4 linked regions of the Homo sapiens genome follow. The protein of the gene in region 1 purifies or fractionates together with the protein of each later gene. This does not show direct contact. Each region holds a gene or a part of one and is shown on either strand. Other genes may lie near its edges. The genes, in order: ADCY9, ANKMY2, FUT8 and LEMD3.

Region 1 (7,028 bases):
CTGGCCACTTCCCTTGCCAGTTCCCTTCCTGTTTCAAAAACTCTCATCTCTTCACAAAATTCCCTCCAGGGATGCTAGTTCCTGTTGGAAAAGGTCTTGAGGTGTGTCACAGGCAAAGTACAAATGATATGCCCAGGGCCAGATGGATGACAGGCCCCTAAGCTCAGCTAGTCCAGAGTCAGGAGGGGACCTGCAGAATTCTAATGGTGAATGATTACACTCTTACAGTTTTGGAATTCCAGCAAAAACACCAATACTAAAATCACCAACCAAGACAAAGACGAGACTTACGGCCCACGCAGGCTTCTGCACACTCTGTGCCCAGACATGGACAGATTAATGTGGGTTGGTTGGTTGGTTTTTTTCCAAGATTACTATTCCACAGCAAAGTACATAGGCAACGCTGACCAATATGCAGAAACATAATTACTATCTCACCAAGCTGGCCAGAAGACAAAAATCTTGAAACTTCTTGACTTGCTCTAATTGTTCCTTCTCCATGTTTCCCTTCCTTAGGCATTCTACCTGAAAAGACAGCCCTCCCTTCCTTCTTCATCCCATTGGCAATTCAGCAAACCTTAACCTTCTCTTGCTTTACCAGAGGTTACTTCTACTCGAAAGCTTGTCTTCAGAATTAACAGCTGTGTCCTTGTCACTGTAAGCCAGGTCTCAAAGAGCCTGAACAAATGGTCACTGGGGGCAGCTTGAGTGTCGACTCTACTGCTGTTTTCTGTCTCCCACCCCAGCTGTGGAGGGGAACTGTGTGCCTCATCTCATCTCTGCCATTTGCTATCTGAGAGGCTGTATTTCCACGTGCATAACAGATCCTGCTCAAGAATGCAGGTCAAGGCTGGGCGTGGTGGCTCACGCCTGTAATCCCAGCCCTTTGGGAGGCTGAGGCTGGTGGATCACCTGAGGTCAGGAGTTCAAGACCGGCCTGGCCTACATGGTGAAACCCCATCTCTACTAAAAATACAAAAATTAGCCGGGCGTGGTGGCGCACACCTGTAATCCCAGCTATTTGGGAGGCTGAGGCAGGAGAACCGCTTGAACCTGGGAGGCAGAGGTTGCAGTAAGCTGAGATCACGCCATGGCATTCCAGCCTGGGTGACACAGCCAGACTCTGTCTCAAAAAAAAAAAAAAAAAAAAAAAAAAAAGAATGCAGTGCAGGTCAACACAGAATTTCCAAGCAAGGAGACTGAGCTCTGCTAACGGGTTAGCATCCCAGTGGCAAGGGTTGCAGGCTTAGGTGGGGACAAGCTAACGGGGGAAGGAAGGGGAACACCTGAGCATGCAACTGAACCCCAAACCAACACCTGGCTAGGGTTCTGTCAGCTGGCAGGCCCGTGCTCAGGGTTAATGGGGCGCCCAGATTTCCGGCATGAGACAGGTGTTTGTTTGCAGAGGCTAACGCATACAGAATGCCTCCGTCCACTGTCGGTCTGTCGGCCCACCAGACAGGGTCTACATAGGAACTCCTCTAAGGCAAAGGTCTCGATCACAGAGGTGGCCAACAGGTGACAATCTGCCCAAATGCATACCAGCGGGTCTCCTCCCCAAGTTGCTCCACAAGCATAAAGTTTGGCTGGGGAAAAAAGCTTTTTTAATTTCTGCATCTGACAATGTGATCACTCCCTGGTATTCCCCTCTTCAGAGATATGACCATGGGTGTGGATGAGAGCGGAGGAGCATCTTCATTCTGTCTTCCTAATATTTACACGGGAAAAGAAGATGCCTGTAGATATTTTCTAACAGTTTCATTTTCTGTCTTTGTGACCCTGTATCTATGACAGGAAAAGCCAACAGCTCGAGATAACACGTCTCACCATTTTTTGCTTGTGGCCCAAGGCAGAATACAACAGCCACGGTTCCCTCAGGCCTAGCGGTTTCATCCCAAATGCTGTGGAAGGTCCCTCACCTTAATCAGACCGTTTCTTCATTTTTTTTTTTTTTTTTTTTTTTTTTTTTTGGCGACAAAGTCTCGCCCTATCGCCCAGGCTGGAGTGCAATGGCACGATCTCGGCTCACTGCAAACTCCACCTCCTGGGTTCGAACGATTCTCCTGCCTCAGCTTCCCAAGTGGCTGGGACTAAAGGCGCCTGCGACCACACCCAGCCAATTTTTGCATTTTCAGTAGAGACAGGGTTTCACCATGTTGGTCAGGCTGGTCTCAAACTCCTGACCTCCTGATCTGCCCACCTCGGTCTCCCAAAGTGCTGGGATTACAGGCATGAGCCACCACGCCCGGCCCATTTCTCCATATCTTTAATAACTGTCCCTCACACTTTTTTTTTTTTTTTTGAGACAGGGTCTCATTCTTGTCGCCCAGGCTGGAGTGCAATGGTGCAATCTTGGCTCACTGCAACCTCCGTCTCCCAGGTTCAAGCAATTCTCCTGCCTCAGCATCCCGAGTAGCTGGGATTACAGGTACCTGCCACCACACCTGGTTAATTTTTGTATTTTTAGTAAATATGGGGTTTCACCACGTTGGCCAGGCTGGTCTCAAACTCCTGACCTCAGGTGATCCGCCTACCTCGGCCTCCCAAAGTGTTGAGATTACAGGCATGAGCCACCATGCCTGGCCCCTCACTTTTTAGATTATTTCCAAAATCCTAGCAGTATGCTAAAAATTCCTGCAACCTTCTCCCAGTGACTGGCCACCCTAGATAAGATTTCTCACACTCGTACACCCCATCTGCTGTATCCCCTTCCTGCTTTATGTTTGTTCACAAAACACTTTTTCTATTTTACTTATTTATGGTTTGACTCCCCTGTTGTCCCCTCTATTAGATCTCCCCTATTTGAAGGCCTGGTTTTTGTTTCTTAGAGACAGGGTCTCACTCTGTCGCCCAGGCTGGAATGCAGTGGTGCAATCACGGCTCTCTGCAACCTCGACCTCGTGGGCTCCAGCGATCCTCCTATATTATTGACTTAAAAATTCTTGTCCCCTATTACAAGAGCAGGAATTGTTGTCTGTTTTGTTTACGGCTGTATTGCCAGAACCCAGAACCGTGCCTGGCACGGAGTAAATGATTTGCTGAATGAGTAAGCAAGCCAGGGGTTCCGGGCCTCTGTACTCTGCAAGTCCATCCTGCATTCTCCATTCATACCATAGCAACTTCAAAGGCCCCTCACCCATTCCTGACTCCACATTGTCGCCAAGTCACTTCCAGAAACTTAAAATGCCATTTCCCATTCACATGGTCAAGCCCTTCCCCTCCTGCCAGTCGTTTGTTTAAATCTGGCTTGCAGTCCCATCAAGCTGCTCTTCCTAATGCCACTCAGATCCCATCACCTCCATCACTGCTACTGTAACTTTGGATTGGGCCACCATCACCCCTACCTGGGATTTACTCGACACCTCATTAATCTCTTTCCAACCCACACTCACTAGCTCTGAAAGAGTGAACTTTCTAAAACTGCAAGTCAGATCACCTAAGCCCCCTGTTGAGTGGTTCCCTGACACCTATGGGGTCAAATGCAAACTCCTTCCCACGCTACCCATGGCCTTCCTTGTCCTGATGAACAACTAACAATCGTCCGCCCCCACAGAGAAGCACAGGGCCCAGCCATACCCACCTCTCCGCTCTGCCCTGGTGCTCTTCTGTCCACCTGGAGAGCCACAGCCTGATCTCAGGACCCAGCTCCAGCAGGAGCCCCCTCTAAAGCGCTCCCCACTCCCGAACATACTCCACAACATTTTTAACTGTGAGCTCACGGAGGTTGGGAACTATTAACGCAGGTCAGACGCGCCCCAAAGTGGGGCCGAGCCCAAGAGGGTTCTTGGCTTTGCCCAGGAAATAATTCAAGGGTGAGCCGGTGGCAGGAAAGAAAACACCTTTATTGAAGAGGCAGGCAGTGTTATACGGCTCCATGACTGCTCCTGCAGAGCTGGGCTTTCCCAAAGGCGGAAAGTAGCAGCTCAGGGCAGTTTTGCAATCATACTTATACCTACTTTTTTTTTTTTTTTTTTTTTTTTTTGAGACGCAGTCTCGCCTAGGCTGTCGCCCAGGCTGGAGTGCAGTGGACATGATCACAGCTCACTGCAACCTCCACCTCCTGGGTTCAAGCGATTCTTCTGCCTCAGCCTCCCGAGCACCTGGGATTACAGGCGCACACCACCACACCAGGCTAATTTTTGTATTTTTAGTAGAGACGGGGTTTCACTATATTGGCCACACTGGTCTCCAACTCATGACCACAGGTGATCCACCCGCCTTGGCCTCCCAAAGTGCTGGGATTACAGGCATGAGCCACTGCGCCCAGCCTTACCTTATACCTACTTTTAATTTCCTGTAGAGTAAAGGTAGGCTTAGGCAGACACTTCTAGGAAAAGGGTGGTGGCTTTTGGGTTGTCAGGTCACGGCCATGGAAAGAGGCAGTAACTCCGGGTGTGGCCATGGCGACAGTAAACTAACAAGGCACACTGGTGGGCGTGCCTTGCAGAACGCTGCTTCTGCCCCATCCCTGTATCAGCTAGTCCTCAATTCGGTCTGGCATCTGAACCCCGCCTCTGGAGTCGAGTCCCACCTCCTACCTCACGATCACGGATCCTGCTCCACGATCACGGATCCTGCTCCACATCCACAGTGCCAGGTGCACAGTCAGTGCCAGGGGCACGACACAGATTTCAGAGTGAAGGAATGTGCAGAAATCATGAAACTACCCTTCTGCAAAGCCTGTTCGGATAAATTTGAATGAGAGGAGCTTCCTTCTGTGCTCCCAGGCTAGTTCTAGAAGCCCCTTCTCATTCTATGGATGCCCATTCCTGCAGGGCCGCTACTGGCTGCTTTTTAACCCTGGGATCAGAAAAGGGGGTAAGAGGGAAAGGCTAATACACCCAGTATTGGGGTTTTTTTTGTTTTTGTTGTTGTTGTTTTTTAAGACAGAGTTGCTCTGTCGCCCAGGCTGGTGTGCAGTGGCGCAGCCTCGGCTCACTACAACCTTCTCTTCCCGGGTTCAAACAATTCTCCTGCCTCAGCCTCCCGTAATACCCAATATTGTATAGAGAAAACATCTGCCACCAGCCCAAAGGCAGAGGCTAAAATCGATCTTACATGTAGATAAGCTTAACTATGTGTGTGAAAGGGTCTTCTACAAACTGTGCTGTCATCTCAATTTAGCTTTGTAAGGACAGTTTCCAAAAGGGCCAGGAAGTTGTGTAGACATACTCTATTCCTGGAGTCCTATCCACAAAGGTTTGTAAAATGAGCTCAAGAAAACAAAATCGTGGTCTCAGAGAAAGAGCTAAAGGAAAGAATATCACTTTTAAAAAATCAGCAGCTAAGCTAAGCCTTCTATCTTCCCTACTCCCTACAGTACTAAAACTTTTATAAATATACAATGTACACAAATGTCAAGAAAAGTTAATTTACCAAATTTACACTATTTGAGGTTTAAAAAAAAAAAAACACAAACTCACTCTAGCATTTTTTTTTTTTGGCTCTGTGTCTGAGACCCCTGATCTACAAACTTAAAAATAAAACTACTCATAAATTCACAAAATAGGTATTCAATGACTTGGCAATTTCCAAACATATTTAATAATTACACCCTCTTCATTTTTGAAATTCGAGTAATACAGCATACAAAGTACAGCTTACAAAACGTTCTCATTGTCCTCTGGGCCAACATATTTAATTTAACGTACTGCCGCCCAGCTCCACCGTCCCACAGTCTCCAAGGACAGAGCTCACAACACCTGGGCCCTAAAAATGCCAAGGTGGCAAGCAGGGGGTTACACCCACAGCCCCGTCCACTGACACCTTCAGACTCAAGAGCGAGTGCCACCGCCCTAAACGGAAAGACACTCATCACGGCAGCATCTTTCAAGTGAACAGAAAGTGTAGTTTCTGACCTTGTTAACATAGTCCTTAAAGTGCTCTAGGTTAGGGGAATTCTCGGGTGAAAATAGTTTTCGTCTACATCCATAAAATCTTCAACAGCAAAGTTAGTAAAATAAAGAAAAATCAGAAGAAAGATGATGTTCCCTTGCCAGAGAACAAATACATAAAAGATACAGGAGCTCAGATCACAAGCCAGAGAAAGAGAATGCCAACTGGACACATAGGATGATCTCACACCAACGACCTATGCAGGCCCTACCTCAACCACTGGACGTCTCTGACTGACACTATTACTTCTGCCGTCTCTGATTGAAACTATTACTTCTGCCATCTCTGATTGGAACTATTAATTACTTCTTCCGAGGATTCCCTTTCCTGAGGCTTTTAACTGTTTAAGTATGCAGTGTGTGGGGACCACAAAATACAATACAGCTTCACAAAAGCAGGCTTTTAAAAAAAATCAGTGTTATTTTCTCTACATACTTCCACAACAGATGTTCCCCTCAATCCTGAAGATTTTAGTAAAACATAAGGACTGTTTAAAAAGGAGGAAGTGGGGGAAGAAATGTAGCAGATTACTTAAAATCTTTCTTTTTCGTCCTACTTATTTTAATATCATTTTCCAGATCTCAAAGACTTTTGTCCTATATTAGAAAAAACAAGCAGCCCAGTAAAAACATCAAGAATAGCAGTAAGGAGCTTCAAACCAGGGACCAGGCACCAGATCCAAACCTGAGAGGATGAGGGAGGGGAATACCAGCTCTCCGGCAGGTACGTTTCTCCCTTCCAAATCACCTGGTGGCTGGAGAAGCTCAATATGAAGCTCTTCACTTAAGGCAAATACTATGATAATAAAATATCCTTAAACAAATGATGGCTGAAAGCTGAAAATGCAAACTTTTTTTAAAAAAAAAAAAAGACCTAGATAAAAGACAGTGTGTACTCAGAGGTAAGTAACTCCGTCTAATTCTCCAGAGACCTGCAGGACTGCGCCGACTTCCTATCCCTATTTTGAGGATAAGCAAAGTGAGGCCTAGAGAGGAGAAAGATTTTATTCTCCACGTTTTCGCAAAAAGGGCAGAGAGAAACATTTGGATGGGACTTCAGGGTGACCAAATGAATGCAAAGGCAATTTCCTTAAGTGCTAAACAGTGCTGAATGCTGAAGGGCTCCATACCCTT
Region 2 (7,028 bases), on another chromosome or scaffold:
CAACCATTTGTGAGTGCTGGAAATCCCACATAACAGGTACTGCTAGTTGCTTCTCTGATATCAATTCTCCCAGCTTCCTCAGTAACAGAAGTGTAATTTTGTTCAGAGGAGGAGTGTTTAGAAAAGCCAAAAAAAAAAATTTTCCTGGACTCCTGTGTAGCTAAGGAAAGTCATGTGACACAGGCAGAGGGCTTCTGGGAGAGCTTATGTTTTCCAGATATAGACCCCTTTGCTCTTCCTGCCTGCCTGGGATAGGAATGTGAGCTGGAGGAGGAACATCAAATGCCTCGTAACCATGAGATCATAAGTATGCATATGAGAACCTACACAGCTAAGGAATATTGGAAGGGAAAGATGAGAAAGTGTTTGGGTCCCCAAACTATTTTTAAGTCACTATGCCAGACCTAGTCTGCCTACCTTTGGGCATCTATGTATATGTGAATACATAAACCCTCATCTATTTAATTCATGGTTGGTTGGGCTTTGATATGTGCTGCCAAGACACATTTGTAATTGACAAATCATAATTTGCTAACTTTATTCTTCCAAAAGCATAAACACTAAATAGCCAACTATATTAAAAAGTATGAGTAAAGAAACTCTTGAAAATAGGGGGAGCACACATGAACAAATTAATGCATGAGCTTTATGAGATGGTCTTTTCTGCTCAGGTCTTTCTTGTTTATTTTATGGCTCAGACTAGGTGAATTCTTAATGTACAAAGGAGCATCTGGAGCCCACTTGAAGCCCTGATGTTCCACACTGAGAATGACATAACAACCCAGAGAGAAGGCACAGAGAAGGGAACCAGATTTGCCAGAGGGAGGGAGGAAGCCATGGATGGGACTGGTCTTAGGATCAATTTCTTGCCTGATAGACAAAAGCTGATCAAGTTTTTGATTGAAACGTATAAAAGCATGAATGGGTATAGATAGGGTAAACAAAAACCTATTCAAAATAGAAAAGGTGGCTGGGCGCAGTGGGTCATGCCTGTAATCCCAGCACTTTGGGAAGCCGAGGTGGGTAGATCACCTGAGTCAGGAGTTCGAGACCAACCTGGTCAACATGGTGAAATCCCATCTCTACTAAAAATACAAAAATTAGCTGGGCGTGGTGGCGCGCACCTATAGTCCCAGCCACTCAGGAGGCTGAAGCAGGAGAATCGCTTGAACCTGGGAAATGGAGGTTGCAGTGAGCTGAGATTGTGCCACTGCACTCCAGCCTAGGCGACAGAAACAGACTCTGTCGCAAAATAGAAAAGGCCAAATAAATTAAAATATATGACAAATGAATAGTAAGTCATTTAAATAACAGATAAAGTTAACAAAATACACTTATATAGTGGGTAAGTATAAATAGGTTGTAAGTATGGACATTTTCTAATCAGAGGCATTAAGGTGGATTATAGGAAGCTGAGGCATACTTTGAGATTGTTACCAGGAACCACAATGAGCCTTCCCATGGCTTATCCCACTACATCCCCACTGCCTGGACACTATCCCCCTAGGTGATCAATTCATACTTGCATCTAGTGTATGACTTTGTGCTGATAATTCATATAGCTACAAGTGTACATGTGTGTACCTATATTACATAGTGGATGTACTTAAAATGTAAGTTTCTACCCTAACCATCTACATTTCAACATAGCGACGTCCTGTTTATGAAACTATGAACCATAATAAGGTAAGAAGAGGATCGTGAGATGGGAAATAAATAAACAGGAACAGGTTTGGCAGGCAAACCTATCTCCACCTTTGTTCCTAAAAATATTCTGAAATAATAAAAATAAATATTAAAGAGAACTTGCCTTTAACAATACAATAGGTGGGAATTAGGTTTTACTGATAGAGTCAACTTAGGTAAGAGGAGCCTTACAATTTCAACAGGAGCAATGCTTCGAACCAGCTGCTGGAGGAGTGTAGCTTCACAGTAAGGAAATTTTCTGATACTTTCTCTAATGATCTTTTCTTGATACACTGGAAAGCCATCAGAAGCTCGGCCTTTTAACAAGCTGAAAGATATTTTTTAAAGCGTAATTGGAGTTGAATCACTAAGCATTCTCTCCTAGTTGAACCCAACAGTTTTTAGTAGTTTCTTCTGTTACTTATGATTTTCTTTGTCTCTTCAAATCATGATGACGGGCTCAGTTCAAATTGCTGTTCAACCTATATGTTAGGCTAGGCCTTATAAGGTTTTCCAGCCCATTAAATGAATATGCAAAGGTGACTACCACCATAAAACACACTAAACACTGTTATCAGATTAGCTAGTTACTTATTACCATGTCAGTTATTTGTACTAAGAATGAAAACTCTCATAGAGCCACACCCTTCAGACTTAGTTCCCTTTTCTAGGTAAGGATGCAAGAGAATTTGATCTCTGGTGGTCAGAGAAGCAGCATAACACACAGCTCTCCAAGATACAGTAACAGAGACACCCTGGATGCCATTACAAACCTAGGGCTGCGACCTAGGGCATAAAATATTCTCAAATTTGGACTTGGGCCACTTTCTCGCGGTGTGATCTTACACATGTTATTTAACCTCTCCAAACCTCAGATTCCTCATCTGTAAATTGCTGGTAACAACAAAAACATCACAGTAAAGGATACAGAACTGAATAATCACTCAATATAAGTATAATATTATTCTCTGTTTGTCAAAGACTAAATGTGAGTCCAACAACAGCAATTGCTGCCAAAATGTTTAATTTTGAAACACATAATAATGAGGCTTCATATTAAAAAAAATATTCACTTGAGTGTATTTTATAAACGACATAGTAAAAAGAGTACCTTTTGATCAAGGTGTCCAGTTTATTCTCTCCATCTTTTAAGAAGTTAATGCATTTCTGAAAGATACAGCTTATGTAATGCATCTTCATAGCCAATACTTCATTCATGTCTCTTTGCTTCATACATTTCTCACAAATCAAATCCATCACTCTGTAGCATTTATTCAGGGCTGCTTCTTCTGTCAGCAGAGGATTCTCATTTACAAGCATCACGATCTAGAGGAAATCCCAGTGTACTCAGGTATTAAAGGAGACACTTGTTCATGTACAAATTAGGTAGTCCATTTAGTTGATTTCAAAAGATTACCAAAGAAAGCCTTCCTTAGGATCATGAAGTTATTATGTTATTTGTTAGAATGCAAATTACCCAGAACTTATAGAACTAATATAGAAAGACCCTGAAATAGTGGAATCTCTTGAACTCTGTATATCAAAGTTATAATGTGATCTTCCATCTACCTACACCACAGTGCCAGTATGCCATTCAAGAGCACATGATTTTACAGTCTCTGTTAAATTCACTTTTACTAAAGATAAACATGACAAATTTGTACATTTTACATAAAGAATCAAATCATTGAGCAATAACCACTTTTAGTTAACATTACTCAGCTCTAGAATTTCATGGCTAGGAGAACTACAATTCTCATTAATTCTTATTAAGCACAAGAAAATGAGATTTTTTCAGAATGAAGTCTAAAAATGAAATATGCTTTACTTTCCAATTAACTATATTTCTCTATGGAAATTTTCCTGAAGATGCTTCCAATCATCTACAGTAATGAGAACAGGTCAAAGAGGAAGCCATAAATAACTTTAAAGGGGAAATATTAGAATGATCAAATCTTACACGTTATGAGTCCCACATTTCCTATGTATGCACAGATTATGCTCAAATTTAGTGTAATATGGAGTATTTTTGTATTAGCTTTGTTGTAGGGTAGATTATTTGAAGTAGGTCTGCAAAGGACTGCTGTAAATATCCATGGTGGCATAACAGTAATGTAAACATGAATGTGAGAGTGGCAGGAGGCAGCCAAATGCCTAGAGAGAATAGGGGTGGGTCCTTGGTGAAGCCCCACTTCCAAGCCAAAGACAGTTTAAAGCCTGAAAGCCAAGCTACAAATTAAATCCTTGAACCGGATTGAGAACTTGTCTTCCTGTTTGACTCAATTTCTTCTGATTGATCCCCACCCTTCACCTATTTTACATACACCTACCCTTTCCTAACTGGTTTTCTACACTGTTGTGCCCACCATTGAGTGGTGTCTTCACTTTAACCTTTTTTACATACTCACAAACCAATCAGCATGCACTCCCCTTTCTGAGTCCATAAAAGGACCTGGACCCAGGCACATGGGGCACTTTCCCGCCTTTGGGTAGGGGAACCACCCTGCACTGCGTCTCCTATTTGCTGAGAGCTTTCCTTTCACTTAATAAATTTTACTCCACTCACTCTCCAGTGTCCACCTGTCTAATTCTTCCTGGTTGTAAGACAAGAACTTGGATCTAGCTGAACTAAGGAGCACAAAGACCACAACAAATGTAACAGGGACACAACTGTATGCACAGAGCAGACAGCCAGTCAGTACTTGCTAACCTACCTGTTACAGCTAAATCAATATCCCAGGGACTATACATGTCAGGGAACAACAGGTAGATTTCCTGAATTAGATTCTTTTCTTTAGGCATGAAAAAAGATCATCTATTAGTAAAGCCCATAGCTAGCCCTCTAATTAGAAATTTAACACAGATTAAATGTCCTTGTAAAATTAAACGAATTTCACTTTTTGACATTTATTAGATTTATACACAATCTAGTGTTTTACAAAAATCCAGCACTTAATAATAAGTTATTAGACTTAATGAAGTAAGTATAATCAGAATCCTTATTGATAACTCTCTCTACCAAAACATACTTTGACAATTTATGGTGGAGAAGAAAAGACTCATTAATTATCTGTTTATACTTCTGCTAATTGTAATCATTTAAAGTTGTTTGATCAGTATTTTTATATATGGCATTTATAATCAACTATAGAATCTTAAACTTACAAGTGAGAATTCTTTCAAAAAATTTCAAACAGAGCCCAGATTAATAATTTTTTGTTTGGAGACATCAGACCTTATCTATGTTTTAATACACAGCACAAATATACACCAAGAAAAATGACAAATAACCACATCATTAACATGCGCTTATTGAAACAACTACATAGCTGCACACAAAAGAATAATATTTGTACTTGTTTCCTTCCTTAATCTCTGCAGCATTATGAAGTAATATATTATAAAGGAAATCCTTTTTATTAATTAATGAGGAGGAGCAAATAAATATATTTCTATTGGCATTAAAAACTAGATAAATTTTTACCATTCAAAGGATTGCTACCTGAGAATATGTTTATGTAGTGGCATTTTGAATTCTTTTTATTTTTTAAATCCTATTTTTAAAAACTGCTAAATCTACAATACTGGGCTTGAAAATCACAATAATCAAAGACATGATTGTTCTGTGCACATCTGCCTCCTGTACACTTAGAGACCCTGCTCTGCTGACATTTTTTTCTGTGATTTTGTTTTTCTCCTAGATAACCTTCATATTCTGGGCATCAGCACAATCCTCCAAATCCCTTTTGAAAACAAATGCATCCTTATTGCTACGGCAGCCACTTAATCTAGACACAAATACAGCTATATTAGGTGCACTGTAATGAAAAGTGAGGTGTGTATTGGGGAGAATTTCCGAGGTTGTTTTAAAAGCTGTTTAACATTACACAGTGGTTATTAGTTTTTAAATAATACTCCATAGGAAATGCCATGCTAGCTTAAAAAGGGGGTAGAGCAATAAAAATGGGCCACAGTAACAAAAGCAACTGGGTGGCTTTTAGATCCCAAGGGTGGATAAAAGAAAAGGTTTCGAGCGAATAGATTGTTTATACCTACAAAAAGCAAGGTCTGGTCTGGAGGAAGGTATATAATAGGATAGCCCCCTTCATACTCCAAAAAATATTATGTAGTCTATTTCAGACTATATACCTTTACAAATTATTGTCTGCATAATTATGCCCTCAATCTAATTTACTTAAAATATATACCTTCAAAGATAACTGAAGGTAGAGTATTAATAATTATTAGGACATTTAACCCTGAAAGACTGGGTTCCAAGTAAACATAAAAAATTATTCCATAAGCCTGGCCAACATGGAGAAACCCCATCTCTACCCAAAATACAAAAATTAGCCAGGCGTGGTGGTGGGCACCTGTAATCCCAGCTACTCAGGAGGCTGAGGCAGGAGAATCGCTTTAACCTGGAAGGCCGAGATCTGTACCACTGCACTCCAGGCTGGGCGACAGAGCAAGACCCTATCTCAAAAAAAAAAAAAAAAAAAATTCCACAAACCCTTACTGCAATCTGAAGAGGCAGAAACATAGATATGAAAGACAGTGAATCAGAAAAGTACAGGGAACTTCTTCAAGTCAGTCTAAGCCAGAATATCCTGTATTGCTCAGGCAGTGGAGGAACAAGAGTCTTACAGAACCACACACATTCTCTACATTGAGAAATACTGTACCCTGACAGAAACCTGTCTCCCCATCCCAGCCAGCCCATGCCTGAGAGAGTGCCATGGACAGAGGTCAATGCTTCTCTTGGGAGTTCTCTTTTCCCTAGGTATGCTGGGAGGGAGAGAAACAGTAACACAGAAGAAAATACATATTTTTTAAAGGTTAAATTCTAAGCCCTCTGTAATCTCCACTAGAAACATGAGTATGCAGTTCACAACTGAATTTGCCCACTTAGTATCACAAGTGTTGCCTCTGGCAGTTCTTCCAGAATATTAAGAAAAACTCTGAGTTTTCTAAAATAAAAATAGCAGATTCCACTCTTCTGTCTGATGGGAAAGGTATCTACTAGTTTGTCATCTCTCTTAAGGGCCTAGAAAATTAATTTGGGTGGAGGAACACACAATGAGTAAATTTGGTTTGTTTCTCAACCTTCAAGTACTCAAGAAAGATGCACAGGGATGCATCAACAAAGTAATAAGATTATACACATTTTGGATCTTATATCTTTGAGTGAGTGTCAGTCTTCAGAAGAGTCACCTTATAAGAACTGTCCACTCATTTTCATGATGCTCAGCAGACTCCACAGATTCTTCTTTCGTAATAAACTTCTGGGGAAATCTATTTTACTACATGATAGTAACGCCTTATGTTAAGGAAGAACCTTA
Region 3 (6,993 bases), on another chromosome or scaffold:
TAAAAGGTCCATTTTTTTATTGGAATTATCTCTACTTTAAAAAAAAAAAAAAAAGGAATTATATCTACTTTTGATAAATACCTAGCTTACCACACAATTAATACCTTCGCCCATATAAGATTCTACTTGAAGCTTCGTTTTTGAAATTTTAGGATTGTAGCTATTATAAAAACAAAATTTAAGAACACACAACATGTACAATGGGTCAAGAATACATGCCTTAGATTCTGATGAACAGGACAAGAAGGTTAAGAAAATACTATAACATACTCTAAGTTTGGGGGTACATTTTAGAGATTTTTAAGTGAGAAATCCAATAAATCTTTAAGCATTTAGCTTTCCATTATTGCAGCGCATGAAAAGACTTTTTTAAACTAATTTGTAATACACAATATATTCACTCCACAAATAACTATGTACATATATATGCCCACATCAATTTCCTACTCTTTTAATTAAAAATTTATGTTTCTTTTGGTCATAAAAATCTGGTTTTGGGTGTTTTAAAAGTTCAAACAGCTATTAAGCTATACTTTGCTTTGGCACTAGCTCCCCCTCCAGACCAATGTACTAATATAACAGCATTTTTAAAAATAATAAGTTAACAGTTTTTTCCAATCCACTGGCAAATTTTAAGATTCACCACTTTTAAGGACACTCCAATTGCGTAAAAATAACTGGTAAGAATTTGCAACAAAACAATGCAGGATGTAATCAGAATTAGTTTTGTTTTGTTTTTTTCGATTCCATACATCTTAAACAGAACTGATTTGTAGGAAAACAACTTCAGGTGACTTTTTAAATTCAAAAATATCCTCAAAATATAACCTATATAAGGCCGTACTTTATGGAAATTATTTTGAATCACTATCCTATTACACAAGACACTCTTCAAGTTAACTCACAACTTGACCAAAGATACATTTTTGCATCTGTTTCTGCAATCTATGCAAGTTTCATTCCAGCTGTTCAGCTCTTGAATTCAAATAGAATTCTCAATTTATAAGGCAGCAAAAAGAAAATCCATGTCTTGGAACTACCTTTGTACGTGTCTTATAGCCTATTCATCTCTAACTCCCTGCATTTTTTACACACTAAACCTGTGAAATCACAATTACAAATGCTTGAATTCCCACCTTTTCAATACTACTGTAGTATTTACAAATCAAGTAATTAAGATTTTCTATACACATACCAGATTTCACAAGGACAGCAAGGTACAGGGCCTTATTATTTGGCATAGGGTTTTAAGATGTTTTTACAGTTATTTTAAAGAGCAGAGACTACAACTCCATTATTTCTCATATATCTGATATACTGTAGTGCTTAAATAATAATTTCTCTCCTAAAATACTTTCTATATGATGCACCTATTTAAAGAATTAGTCATAAAACATAGAATGTAAATTTAATCAAGAAAATAAACATGCACCTAACCGCCGGAATAACAAGAAAAAAAAAATCTATAATGAAACCTGCCTACAGTTTTCATAGAGGCAAGCCAGTTAAGTCAGTTACTTGAGATGCGTTTAACTCTAAACTGACACAAAACTTGTGTTGAATTTGTTCCGCAAAACCTTGAAATTTGGGGTTATGTACTACAGAATTTGGCTTTTCTGGGTCCACCTTCCTGAGTGGGTTTAAATAAACTGTGAATAATTAAAACATAGGAAGGAAAAAAACACCACCTGTCCGTGCCTTTAACCAAGGCCTCAATCTATATATTATATGGCAAAATGCTAAAATAAAAGCTCATCCGGGACAAACCCTAAGCATGACACTGCCACTTAAGAAATACACTGCGTCTCTGAAGATTGCAATCCCCACTGTGAAGAAAGAACAGGTGCTGCACCCGACAACCCACTCAATCCTGCAGGACAAACCTCCTAGAACTGATAAATATGGACTCATTTAACCTTCCCAAATAAGTTGATACTCAAAAGCCGCCAGCTCGTCATTTGCACATCAAAAGGGAGTACAGCTGCACTCAAGCCTTTAACTGCCCTGCATCAGTCCCTCGCGGATCTTTGTGAGGGTCCACTCCCTGCTTTCTAGCCCGAGCAGCACTCAGAAAGAGCCCATAACGCACGGGCATCTTCCTCCCCACAAACCGCGACTCCAGGGACCGAGCTGCTGACGAAGGGAAGGTAGGTGTGGAGGGGAAACGACGGACACCTCCCACCCCCGCCCCCAACCCTTCTCCTTCCCTAGGCTTTGGCCCCTGCCCTAGGCAAGGATGCGCGACGCCGAGGGCAGCAGCGGCGCAGCTCCGCGTCCCGGCTGGAGAGGCGGGCGCCCCTCACCCTCTGCCCGCGCCCCCGGGGCTGCGCCAAGGCATCCGCCAGAGCGTCCCGGGGGCTCCCTCCCCACTTTTCCGAGAGCCGCTGGTTAACCGGCAGCAGTTGCAGCAACAGGCCCGGGTGAACGAGCAGGGACAGCCGCGGAGCCTCCTCAGATCCCGCGCGCAGCCCAGCCCAAGACCCCGAGGCGCGCGGGGCCCGGCTCCCAAAACGCCCCCTTACCCCAGGCGGGAGCAGAGGCGGTCTCCGCCGCTCCCCGTCGCAGCTGCCAAAGCCACAGCCCTCAGCCGCAGCTGCCCCACGATGGGGGAGTGGGAAGGGTGGCTGAGTGGAGGATGCTACTCCCGACCGAACGGAGAGGAAGAAACGGAAACAGGAACCGCCGCCGCCGCTTAACGGAGCCTTCGGCGCCACTGACTGAGGCAGAGCGCGAGGCGGCGCGAGCCGGGCAGTCGCTGACAGCGCGAGACCGAGAGCGAGCTGGGTCCAGGGCGCGCGACCCTGAGCAGTGCCGGCCCCATTCCGCGGGGAGACGAAGGGACGGGTCGGCTGGGGCCAGGCGGCGGGGGTGGGATGGGGAGGGGGCCTGGAGAGGAGGGAACCGGCTGCTCGGGTCGGCCGGAGATAACGCGCGCACGCGCCGGAGCGGCTCTGACAACGAGCGCAGGCGGGGAAGCCTCGGCCAGCGCCGGCGTGCGCGCGCGAATGGGGGAGCGCGCCCCTCGGCGTTCCTGGCTTCTGGGAGAGGGCGCGCATGCGCCGGCCGCTGCCACCTACGGCGACCCTGGCATGTGCCAGGGATTCTCCCCGCCCCCTTCCTCGCTGCGCCGGTGGAGAGCGTAGCAGCAGCATCCACCGCCTAGCAGAGCCGCGGGCCACAGCGGGACGGCACAGTTCCAGCAGGGCAGCGGCTGCGCACGCCGGCTCCGGCTCGCACACAGGCGTAGGCCGCCCTCTACCGCCTGAAGGCCGGAGGCTGAGCGGGGCGCGAGCGGATCCTGGATCCCGGGAGGAGACTCGCCTCCAGAGAATGCTGTGCTCCCTACAGCGCCGGGAATGGACCGGCCCGTGCCAGCTCAGTCGGCGGCCCTAGGGGGCACCCGCACTAGAGGTTTTGAAGCTGGCTCCTTGCTACTTTTAGGGGTGCGCGCTGCTGCTGCTCAGCCCCTGCAGCCCGCATTTGGCCGCTTGACTGCTGCTTCCAGCGCGATCCTACAATGGCATCGCTCCCCCAGGAGACTCAGCGAAGCCCTACTTTATCTTGTAAGAGCTGTTTCCACATTCACTCGAAGAGAAAGACCCCCCCCACGAGGGCCTGAGTTCGATGCCCGGCCTCTCCCGACCCGCGGCTGCGACAGCCCCTCTGAGGCGGAAGTTTATTTAGTACGGGAAAGAGAACAGCACGGGGAGAGGGGAGAGGCTTTGCCCTAGGATGCGTCCTACCCGCTCGGACTCGGAAAATTCCCGGCGCCCGCGATGCAGAGCAGTGGACCGAAGGGCTGCCCCAGAGCAGCCCAGACCGCCAGCTGAGCGGGAGGACCGGAGCGCGCCGCCCCAGCACACAAAGTAGTCGCGGGACGAGGGGTGCCGCCGAGGCCAATCAGAGCTGCGCGCCGCGTGAGTGGAGTGCGAGCCGGCCAATCAGAGGGCCGGAAGATGAGCTTCCCGTTCCAAACTCTTCCCTGTAGCCTTGGGACCCAGATCCCAAGCCTGGGGCGCTTTACGGTGGGAGAGCGAAATGGTGCCCTTAAGACAAGAATCATTTCTCTAGGCTTGGGCATTTTAAAGTACATACCGGGGATACTTATCCCAAAGCAAGTAGCGGCGGCCTTTTAGATGTTAAATATTAAAAGATCACAGAAAGGAGATTTAAGAGGCAGTGGCCTGTCAAGGTTGCAATCTGCCTAATATTCATAAATTCACATATTTATTGAGACCTTCTTATGTACCAGGAACTCTATCACAGATACACAAATAAGGTACTGCTGATTCAAAAGAAAATCCCTTGTCCTCAAGCAGCTCAGGTTGTGAGGGAGGCTTTCCTAGACCTTGAGACTCGTATTTATTGTCAGCTCTTTAAACAAAAAGCACTCTATGAAGTGCTGTACTTTACAGTCGTTTTTATGATTATCTCCCTGTGAGAAAAGAAAATTGAAAGGAAAGTAGAGTGACTTGTCCAAGATCACACAGAAGATGTACTAGCAGAGCCAGAATTATGTTCTAGCTCAGTTTGGGTGTCATCATTCAATAAAATAATTCAATAACAATTTGTAAATGCATGGATGCTCTCTCCCATGAGATTTCTGTACTAAACGTATAAGCAGGACAAAATTCTGGTATAAAAGTGACACACTTTGGTTGTTGGAAATGAACACAAATTTTAGACTTATGTGGGATTAAAGGTAAAAATCTTACCAGTCATACTTTAGATAATTTTTAGAAGTCAGAGGTGGGGTGGATATTTACTTCTTAGTTTAAACACAGCATTTTAAAAATATTTTAACAAGCAAGCGTAACTTTTTTTTTTTAAGATAGAAGAAGCAGGAAGGATCACTTAAGCCCAAGAGTTCCAGGCTGCAGTGCCACATCGTGCCTGTCAGTAGCCACTTCAGCCTGGGCAACATAGCAAGACCCTCATGTCTAAAATTAAAAATAAAATTTAAAAAAAAGAACTACTTCTAGTTGGTTAATAATCATGATAGTTTACACTGTATAATACTTTGAGATACCCAAGTACAAAGCTTTACATTTGCCTAAAAATTCCATTTTTGTCTGGTGTTCCATTTTTACTTCCAAAATCCTAGGAATTAAAGCACTTATTTTCCCTACCTCCTTCCAACTGAAAAAAAAAAAAAAAAAAACCTGTCCTAGGAATGTTTTGCCCAGGATTTGGTGCATTTGTATAGAACAGTATAATATACGTTAAAATAACAAATAACTTTGGTATCTCTTGAATACACTCAGAAACTAATTCTTCAGTGGTTTTGAAGTCTGCTTTGTTGAATCAATGTGCTTCTCCACCTGTGATGGAACATTATTATCAAAACCCTTTCCAAGGCAGGCTCAGGATTTAGCTGCCATCCCAAAACTGGAGGTCTCTGTCAAACAACTGATATTTGAGAACAAGTCTTTACACATTAAGTTCCAAGCCAATCATGAATTTCCAGGAAATTCACTTATGAAAGGGAATTTTATACCCTGCCTCTTCTCAGTGTGGATAACAGTCCCAGCTTTTAAAAAATACATTTATTTTACTCTCTCCAGACAAGAAAATTCCTAGAACTCAGTCGTTCTCTTGCCAGGTTAAATTCTGAGAGAGAAGGAATCCCCCAAAAGGTTCTAAACATCACTGGCCATCAGAAAGTATCTGTGTCAAAAGCATTTTTCCACAAGCTGCAGGTCCCACCCTGTTGCTGCGCTCTCTCATTCTCTTCTCCCAACTGCTTGCCTCTGCTGCTCATCACTGCCAGTTTGTAATAGTTGCTTAAGTAAGTACAGGTACTCCACCTCTTACTCCACCCCTCCCTCACCAAACTAGGTTTTGGACCCATCTTTGCTTATCCCAAAAGTTAAAGACAAGTTCTGTTCAACAAAAGATTAGACAGAACAATCGTTATGATCTGTTATACAACAAGTAACAGGGCCTTGTCAGTGCATTGTTTTCTTGTATATAGCCTCGGTCAAATTCTTAACCATCAGCTAGAGCTATGGGGACTCGGGTGTCCCGGGGCAAGAAGGAGTCAACCCTTAGACTATGGAAAAGATCAAAATGAAAGTTAAAGTGAGTACATGAGTGGCCATTTTATTGAGAGATTAGCTAGATCAAAGTTAATGAACGTGAATGCTATCACATTTCCTAAGTTGTGAACATTCATGTAGAAACTGGTTTGAAATTTACTACCATTTTATTATGACTGTAATAAAAATAATAGCCAAAGTGTAATAGTGCTGAGCACCAGGCCTCATGCAAAACTCTTTACCTCCACCATTTAATTCTCAAATCAAACCTTTGAGGTGGATCCTGTTATTACGGTGGGGAGATCTGTGGAGTTCCAGCAAGGGGTTGAGGCACTCAGAAGGCTTAGCATAAGCTACTTACCAAATAGTTTAGAAATTTTTCTATCTCTACCAACGTGTACCAACTGACTGTCAGCCATGGAAGCATTCTGAATAATTGTTAATTGTTCTCGTTGTTTTATAATTGTTGCTCTAGCTACATTTCACTTACAGGATCCGATTTTCCAGGAAGTCATCCAAAGGGCAGCATTGTTATTGCCAAGAGCAAGAAGGGGTGACCTTGAGATAATCATTTTACCCATCTGGGCCTCAGTTTTCTCATTTGTAAAATAAAAGGGTTGGACTAGGTAAGTTTTAGTTGTTCGTCAGTTCTAAAACTATAAATCTAGCCAACTTGACACACCATTGACAATAACTACAAAAATGAAATATAGGGAAAAAAAGTCTATATTTTCATTTTTATTTTTTAGAGACAAGGTCGCAGAATGTTGCCAAGGCTCGTCTTGAACTCCTGGCCTCAAGCTGTACTCTTGCCTCAGCCTCCTGAGTAGCTAAGAATCTATATTTTCAAATTCAATGTGTTTTAAGTCACTTTTGAGCCAGCTCCTTAAACAAACTCTATACCTACTCATTAAAAAGCCAGAGCAAATCTTTCCCATTACAAGAGTAAATGAAG
Region 4 (7,028 bases), on another chromosome or scaffold:
TAGCAAGTGACATAATCTTATACATAGAAAGCCCTAAAGATTTCACCAAAAAAATCTTGTTATTTGGCTGGGTGTGGTGGCTCATGCTTGTAATCCGTGCTTTAGGAGGCCAAGGCAGGAGGATAACTTGAGCCCAGGAGTTTGAGACCAGCCTGGGCAACATAGCAAGGCCCCTATCTCTACTAAAAAGAATCTTGTTAGAATAAACAAATTCAGCTAAGTTGGAAGATATAAAATCAATATACAAAAATCAGTTACATTTCTATACACTAACAACAATCTGAAAAGGAGGTTAAGAAAATAATCCCATTTATAATAGCATTAGAAAGATTTAGATACTTAGGAATAAACTTAACCAGGGAGGTGAAAGACTTATACACTGAAAACTACAAAAAAAAAAAAAAAAGCTGAATGAAATAAAAGACACAAATAAATAGAAAGACATCTCATGTTCGTGAATTGGAAGACTTAATATTACTCAAATTACTATACCACCGAAGGCAATACAGCAATACAAAATCCCAATAGCATTTTTTGCAGAAATAGAAGACATAATCCTAATATCCATATGGAACCACAAAGGCCTCACACTGACTTTAAAACATATGACAAAACTATAGTAATCAAAACAGTATAGTACTAGCATAATAATAGACATAAATGGACCAGTGGAACAAAATAGAGAACCAGAAATAAAGCCACTGATGTATGATCCAACAATCTTCTACAAGGGTGCCAGACTACACAATGGAGAAATGACAATCTCTTCAATAAATGGTGCTAGGAAAACTGGATTTCCACATGCAACAGAATCAAACTGGACCTTTATCTTATACCGTACACAAAAATCAACTCCAAATGGATTAAAGACTTAAATGTAAGACCTGAAACTATATAACTTCTTGAAGAAAACATAGAAGAAAAGCTTCTTGACGTTGATATGGGCAATAATTTCTTGGACATGACACCAAAAGCATAGGCAACAAAAGCAAAAACAGAAAAGTGGGACTACATCAAACTAAAAAGCATATGTGCAGTAAAAAAAAACAGTGAATACAGTGAAAAAGTAACCTACAGAATGGGAGAAAATATTTGCAAACCATATATCTGACAAGGGGTTAATATGCAAAATGCATAAGAAACCCCCACAATTCAATAACAAAATAAATAACCCAACTTAAAAATCAGCAAAGAACTTGAATAGCACTTCTCCAAAGAAGATATACAAATGGCCAACAGATAAGGTATTATATATATGCTGTATACATGCTATATATACACACAGATGTATATGTATATAAATGGTATATGAAAAGATGCTCAACATCAGTAATCATCAGGGAAACACAAATAAAAACACAGTGAGCTATAAGGCAAATAAGTGTTAAGGATAGGCAGAAACTGGAATCCTACTATACTATTGGAAAGAATGTAAAATGGTACAGTCAATATGAAAACAGTATGGAGGTTCCTCAAAAAATAAAAAGTTGAACTACCATATTATCTATCAATCCCACTTCTAGGTATTTGTCTAACAGAATTAAAAGTAGAGTCTCAAAGAAGTACTTGCATTGCCATGTTCATTGATGAATTATTCACAATAGCCAAGAGGTGGAAACAATCTAAAAGCCCATCAACATGACTGGATAAAGAAAATATATGTATACATACAATGAAATTCTACTCAGCCTTAAAAAATGAAGGAAGTACTGTCATGTTACAATATGGATGAAACTTGAAGATATTATGCTAGGTGAAATAAGCCAGTCACAGGACAAAAATTGCAGGATTCAACTTATATGAGGTATCTGTTAATCACACTGATGGAGGAAGAAAGTAAAATGGTGGTTGCCAGGGATATGGAGCAGAGGAAAACGGGGGCCTGCTGTGCAATGGCTATAGAGTTTCAGTCATACAAGATGAAGAAGTTCTAGAGATTTGCTGTATAAGAATGCACATATAGTTGTACGGTATACTTAAAAATATGTTAACAGATTTCACGTTATATATTTTTTACCACAATTTTAACAAGGGGATGGGAGGCATGAAATTTGTATGGCATGACTTGTCCACGTTCAAATGCCAGCCACCTTCCAGGGATCAACGTTTCCATTTGCAAGAACTCAGATCTTTATGAAATTATCTTTATGGAACTGGACCGACAACAAGCTTTCCTGTATGGTTTTCAAATGCCACTTTCCACTTCTGAGAAATCAGAATGACATTTATCCATCTTTAATCTTTTACTACCTTTCATTAAGATTTTCCAGAAATTATTTACAGTAGTTTAGAAAATTCAACAGCAAGTTCTCTTAGTATTTGGAGAAGAAACTGATGTGGGACAGAAGATTTTAAATAAATGGTTAGATATTTACCTGCTCTCTTACATGCTACTACTCACCTATCTCAATTTCCCTATGACCAATGTTTCTTTGTACCCTTTCCAAATTAATATGCATTCTCTCATAGAGAATGTTCTAAAACAAACTAAAAAAAATTGAACAGGTGGCTCACGCCTATAATCCCAGCACTTTGGGAGGCCAAGGCATGCAGATCACTTGAGGCCAGGAGTTTGAGACCAGCCTGGCCAACATAGTGAAACTCCATCTCTACTAAAAATACAAAAAACATTAGCTGGGCGAGGTGGTGGGTGCCTGTAATTCCAGCTACTCGCGAGGCTGAGGCAGGAGAATCGCTTGAACCCCGGTTGCGAACGTTGCAGTGAGTCGAGATCAGCCATTGCACTCCAGCCTGGGGAACAAGAGCGAAACTGTGTCTCACAAAAAAAAAAAAAAAAAAAAAGTTGAACAATTTTACTTTCTCATAACTGCTCATATTATACCAAACAGCAGGCCCAAGCTTTTAACAGTACAATTAAAATAATCAAACATATGATTCTTACAAGTAGCAATGATTTATATAATTTTTTAAAATATAGCTATTAAAATTCTAATTTCATTGCTTACTTTTAAATACGCAGCTGCCTCTTGAACAGAAAGCGTTCTTTGACTAGAACTGCCACATTCATGATCTCCTGGAAAGATTAGCATATTATTAATTTTGAATCAGTACTCTCTTAAACAGAAGAAAACAAACATAATTAATTCAAATATTTTATACATTATACAATTACAGGTTATATTATTATAATCAGTAAAGAAAGAACATGAACAATATTATTTATAATTTCTAGAAGAAATTCCAGTAAGAATATAAACAAAGAAATTCCAGTAAGAATATAAACAAACAACTACCATTACATTAACCACAACTTTTAAATGCATTTCAGTCCAAACAAGAACTTATCTTCCTCTTATATTCCCAACTAAACTGTAAGCTGGTATAGGAACTATGTCACACTGATGCCTATCCACAGATCTTGGCACACAAGACGCCCTCCAGAAATATGTATTATTCCTAAAAGGGAAAAAATTCAGCATATTCATTGTGCTAACTTAACTTACACATCTATTCTTAAAGCTAATCATTTAAGGGTTCAAATAAGTTTGAATTTATTAATGAATTAAAGTATGTGCATTTTCAGAGTATAACTAATCCTATCTTTAGCAAGGGGTGTGCATGCCTTAAAAACTGTTATAACATAACCAGGTGTGGTAGTATGCATCTGTTGTCCCAATTATTCGGGAAGCAGAGGCGAGAAGACAGCTTGACTCCATAAATTTGAAGCTGCAGTGAGCTGTGATCACCCTACTTCACTCCAGCCTGAGTGACAGAAAAGATCCTGTCTCAAAAAAATCTTAAAAAACAAAAATTGTTATAACAGACCAACAGGGAAATCAGGTACAAGTTTCCACCTATGATCTGGTTTCTACAAAGGGATGTGCTCATATAAATCTTTGGAAAACTACATTTATCTTTTCTTTTAATTGTTGATAAGAAGCGAATTCAGGGCTTTTTCTTTAGACTATAAGTGGTTATTAGAAATAAATTATCCTCATATTGAACTCCAATTGTCATGTTTTCCCTTCCCTGTGTCTTTCAAGTAGTTAAAAAGCTTGTTAACATGAAAGTAGAATAATTAAAGTAAAATCCTTGCCAAATGTTTCTAAAATAAAAGCAGCCATGTTCTCATTTCAGTTTTGTTCAAGTAATCATTTTAATGTCAGTAGCTATAAAAAGGGGAGAAGTACCTATCAGATGAACAAGTCTTGAAAGTTTATTAGTGCATCCTCAGAGATTTAGATCCCATAGATTTAGAGCAGAGGTCTGCAAATTACAGCCCATGGGTCAAATCTGGCCTACTCTGGTTTTTATAAATGAAGTTTTACTGGAATACAGCCAAGCTCATTCACTTATGTAGTATTTATGGCTGCTTTCATGGTATAACATAACTGAGTGGTTGTGACAGAGGCAAACTAACCTACAAAGCCTAAAATATCCACTATCTGACCCTTCACAGAAAAAAAGCTTGTTGACCCTTACTCAAGGGGAAGGAATCTGTATCTTTAAAAGCACATCAGATTATGCTGATTTAGCTGGCCATGAACCATACTTGATAAAACAATGCTACAGAGATAGCTGTAGAAGCTTGTGTTAGCAATATCCCTAGCTAGCATAACTAGCATATACTTAACCTATCTCTGGGTGCTACAGCATACCAAATAAATGTCATTAGCTTGAAGTGTGTGAATGACAATCAAAGCAAAGAAGGCTTTTAGCGATATAATACAGAATTAAAAGCTTAAAAAATTGACCAGAATTAAGAACCCAATGTACAAAACAAAGAGAGATCAGAGGATGGGAAACTGTCAGGATCCTAAATACCTCCATTCAACCAGAGAAGTTCCATATTTACCTATAGGCTGCTACCAATAATCTGGTTTACACAAAAGTTCTGCTACATAGAAAAGTTTGAAAACTGCATTTTTCTTTTCTTATGCCTGCTTACAAGAATCCAAGTCTCTTCTTTCAGATTATATGTTTAAAAAAAAAAAAGAACTAAAAAAAGGTAATAGATAAGCTGCTACTGCAGTTTACATGTGCTAAACTTGATACTAATTAATCTATAATAAATTATTCCCATTTCGGACAAGTTGACTACCTTAGAGCTCTCAAAGAATTACTAAGAGCAGACTATGAGGAAAATGCAATTAATCCGGAGAGAAAATTACAGGAGAATAAATTTACTTTATCAAACAGAATGATACCTATACAACCAACAAAAGAAAATCTGCATTTGTATATTTAATCCAAGATTTTAGTTAATTCACTGCTTACCTAATTCCTCTGATACTTAAGCTTTCCAGATTTTTTGTTACCACTGATGCAATAAAGAAATTTGATCAACTTTATAACTATATTATATATATATATTACCTCTAATACAGATGGCAGGCAGGAAAAAAGCCTTCATTAAATACATATGTAAAAATCAAAAATCACTCTGTATAGGTAATGAAAACTTCTAAAGAAAAATATTTCACAAATATAACACTGGACTTGGAAAAATATTTTCTACTAATAACATGCTACATACATTTTTCAAAACATTTTTAGCAACTATAAAAGTTAAAACAATTACCTGCAAGCTGTGCCAATCGATCATGAAGCTTATATAATGTGTTCATCATAAGAGTTTTTTCACTTTCCTAAAATTAAGAGAAGTTATTATGAAATACCCAATTACAAGAAAAAAAACACCAAATAATTCTTAATCAAAAAAAAAAAAACAGTAAATTTAAAATCACAGAAGCCACATAATCTGAAAGACAAATTCACATTTAAGTAATGGGCACCATATTTTTAAGAAACCTTAATCTAAGACTCTAAATTATTACTCTAAATATTTCACTTTCTGGAGAACGATTTAAAAATTGGCATAAGGTTAGTGCTAAAAAAAAGGTCTCACAGACAATAAACTCCATCAATCACCAAAGCAATGTTCCCAATCCCCCTCTGCACAGTGTATTCTTATGTAAACTGTTCATATGAGACTGTTTTCTTCATCAAGGCTGCCCTTCATGTCTTGTTTTAATCTAACTCAACCACATAAAACTAAGGGAATGAGTACTGGCACGTTGACTGATACTCAGTCCTCTCCTAGGCTCCCAAGGTGCCCCTGTATAAACTTATGAACTGTTAAAATGAAACAAACATTAAATAAACATCTACTAGGAGTTAAGAACTGTTCTCTCAGCAAAGCGAGAGACCCAGTGAACAAGATGGTTCCTGTACTCAAGGGCAAAAAACATATTAAATGTTATACAACTGCAGAGTAATACAGAAGATTCTCTTCCCTCCTTCTTCTGTAAATATAGAAGGAGGGAAGGAGGGAACAGAATTTATGGAACAGAATATTTGAGTTTGATTTAAAAGGAAAAACTAACAGATCAGCATCCTAGGCAATGGGAAAGACCCTGAGCAAGGGCATGAAGGCATGAAAGCATTGGTTATATTTCTTACATAACCAGTAGCCCTTGTTTGATTCTGCAAACTACTAGAAAAGTTGTTTAGTATTAACTACCAGACAGCCTTGGATAGCAAGACAGAGAGTTTGACTTCATTCTGAAAATTTAGCAGGAGAGTAAAACAGACTTGTGCATCAGGAATACTACCCGGGCCAGAATGTACAATGTATAGGCTGGCTCGGAAGCAGAAATAATTGTATGAAAAGAGTCCAGATAGAGAATTATTGCAATGGTACAGCCTAAGTACCTGCCAAGTAGTCTAAAGCAACAAGACCTCCAATTTAAGAGCAATTACGATCAGGAGGGATCGACATAAATGATGGAGGGTAGGGTGGGGAGGGGGTAATAGCTTATTGCACTACCTAAAATAAGTCCATGATTTATCAGGGGGCTCTGTCTTTATTACTTTCTTTCTTCCTGAAGTTTCCAACAAAACAGATTTACTGGATGAACAGATCATGGAGCAAATTGAAGCAAGATATAAAAGACTGGAAAAGTAACATTTATATGTCTAATAACATGCAACCTCATCCATTTATTTTGTGGTGTATGTGCAGGGACAGAAGAGAACATGTTTGCACACTATGGGTGGCATGCTTT

The links.
Region 2: the proteins of ADCY9 (region 1) and ANKMY2 purify together in Homo sapiens (co-immunoprecipitation; 2 studies listed by BioGRID and IntAct, with this or other methods). This does not show direct contact.
Region 3: the proteins of ADCY9 (region 1) and FUT8 purify together in Homo sapiens (co-immunoprecipitation; 2 studies listed by BioGRID and IntAct, with this or other methods). This does not show direct contact.
Region 4: the proteins of ADCY9 (region 1) and LEMD3 purify together in Homo sapiens (co-immunoprecipitation; 2 studies listed by BioGRID and IntAct, with this or other methods). This does not show direct contact.

Annotation. Positions count from the first base shown.
Region 1 is NC_000016.10:4,106,421-4,113,448, forward strand, and holds part of ADCY9 (adenylate cyclase type 9), read right to left. Parts: intron 1-7,028. UniProt on the Homo sapiens protein: Adenylyl cyclase that catalyzes the formation of the signaling molecule cAMP in response to activation of G protein-coupled receptors.
Region 2 is NC_000007.14:16,607,752-16,614,779, forward strand, and holds part of ANKMY2 (ankyrin repeat and MYND domain-containing protein 2), read right to left. Parts: intron 5,522-7,028; exon of another isoform or gene 5,388-5,521; intron 3,013-5,387; coding exon 2,798-3,012; intron 2,015-2,797; coding exon 1,879-2,014; intron 1-1,878. UniProt on the Homo sapiens protein: May be involved in the trafficking of signaling proteins to the cilia.
Region 3 is NC_000014.9:65,408,744-65,415,736, reverse strand, and holds the start of FUT8 (alpha-(1,6)-fucosyltransferase), read right to left. Parts: upstream 3,008-6,993; 5' UTR 2,523-3,007; intron 1-2,522. UniProt on the Homo sapiens protein: Catalyzes the addition of fucose in alpha 1-6 linkage to the first GlcNAc residue, next to the peptide chains in N-glycans.
Region 4 is NC_000012.12:65,214,558-65,221,585, reverse strand, and holds part of LEMD3 (inner nuclear membrane protein Man1), read right to left. Parts: intron 5,610-7,028; coding exon 5,543-5,609; intron 3,035-5,542; coding exon 2,967-3,034; intron 1-2,966.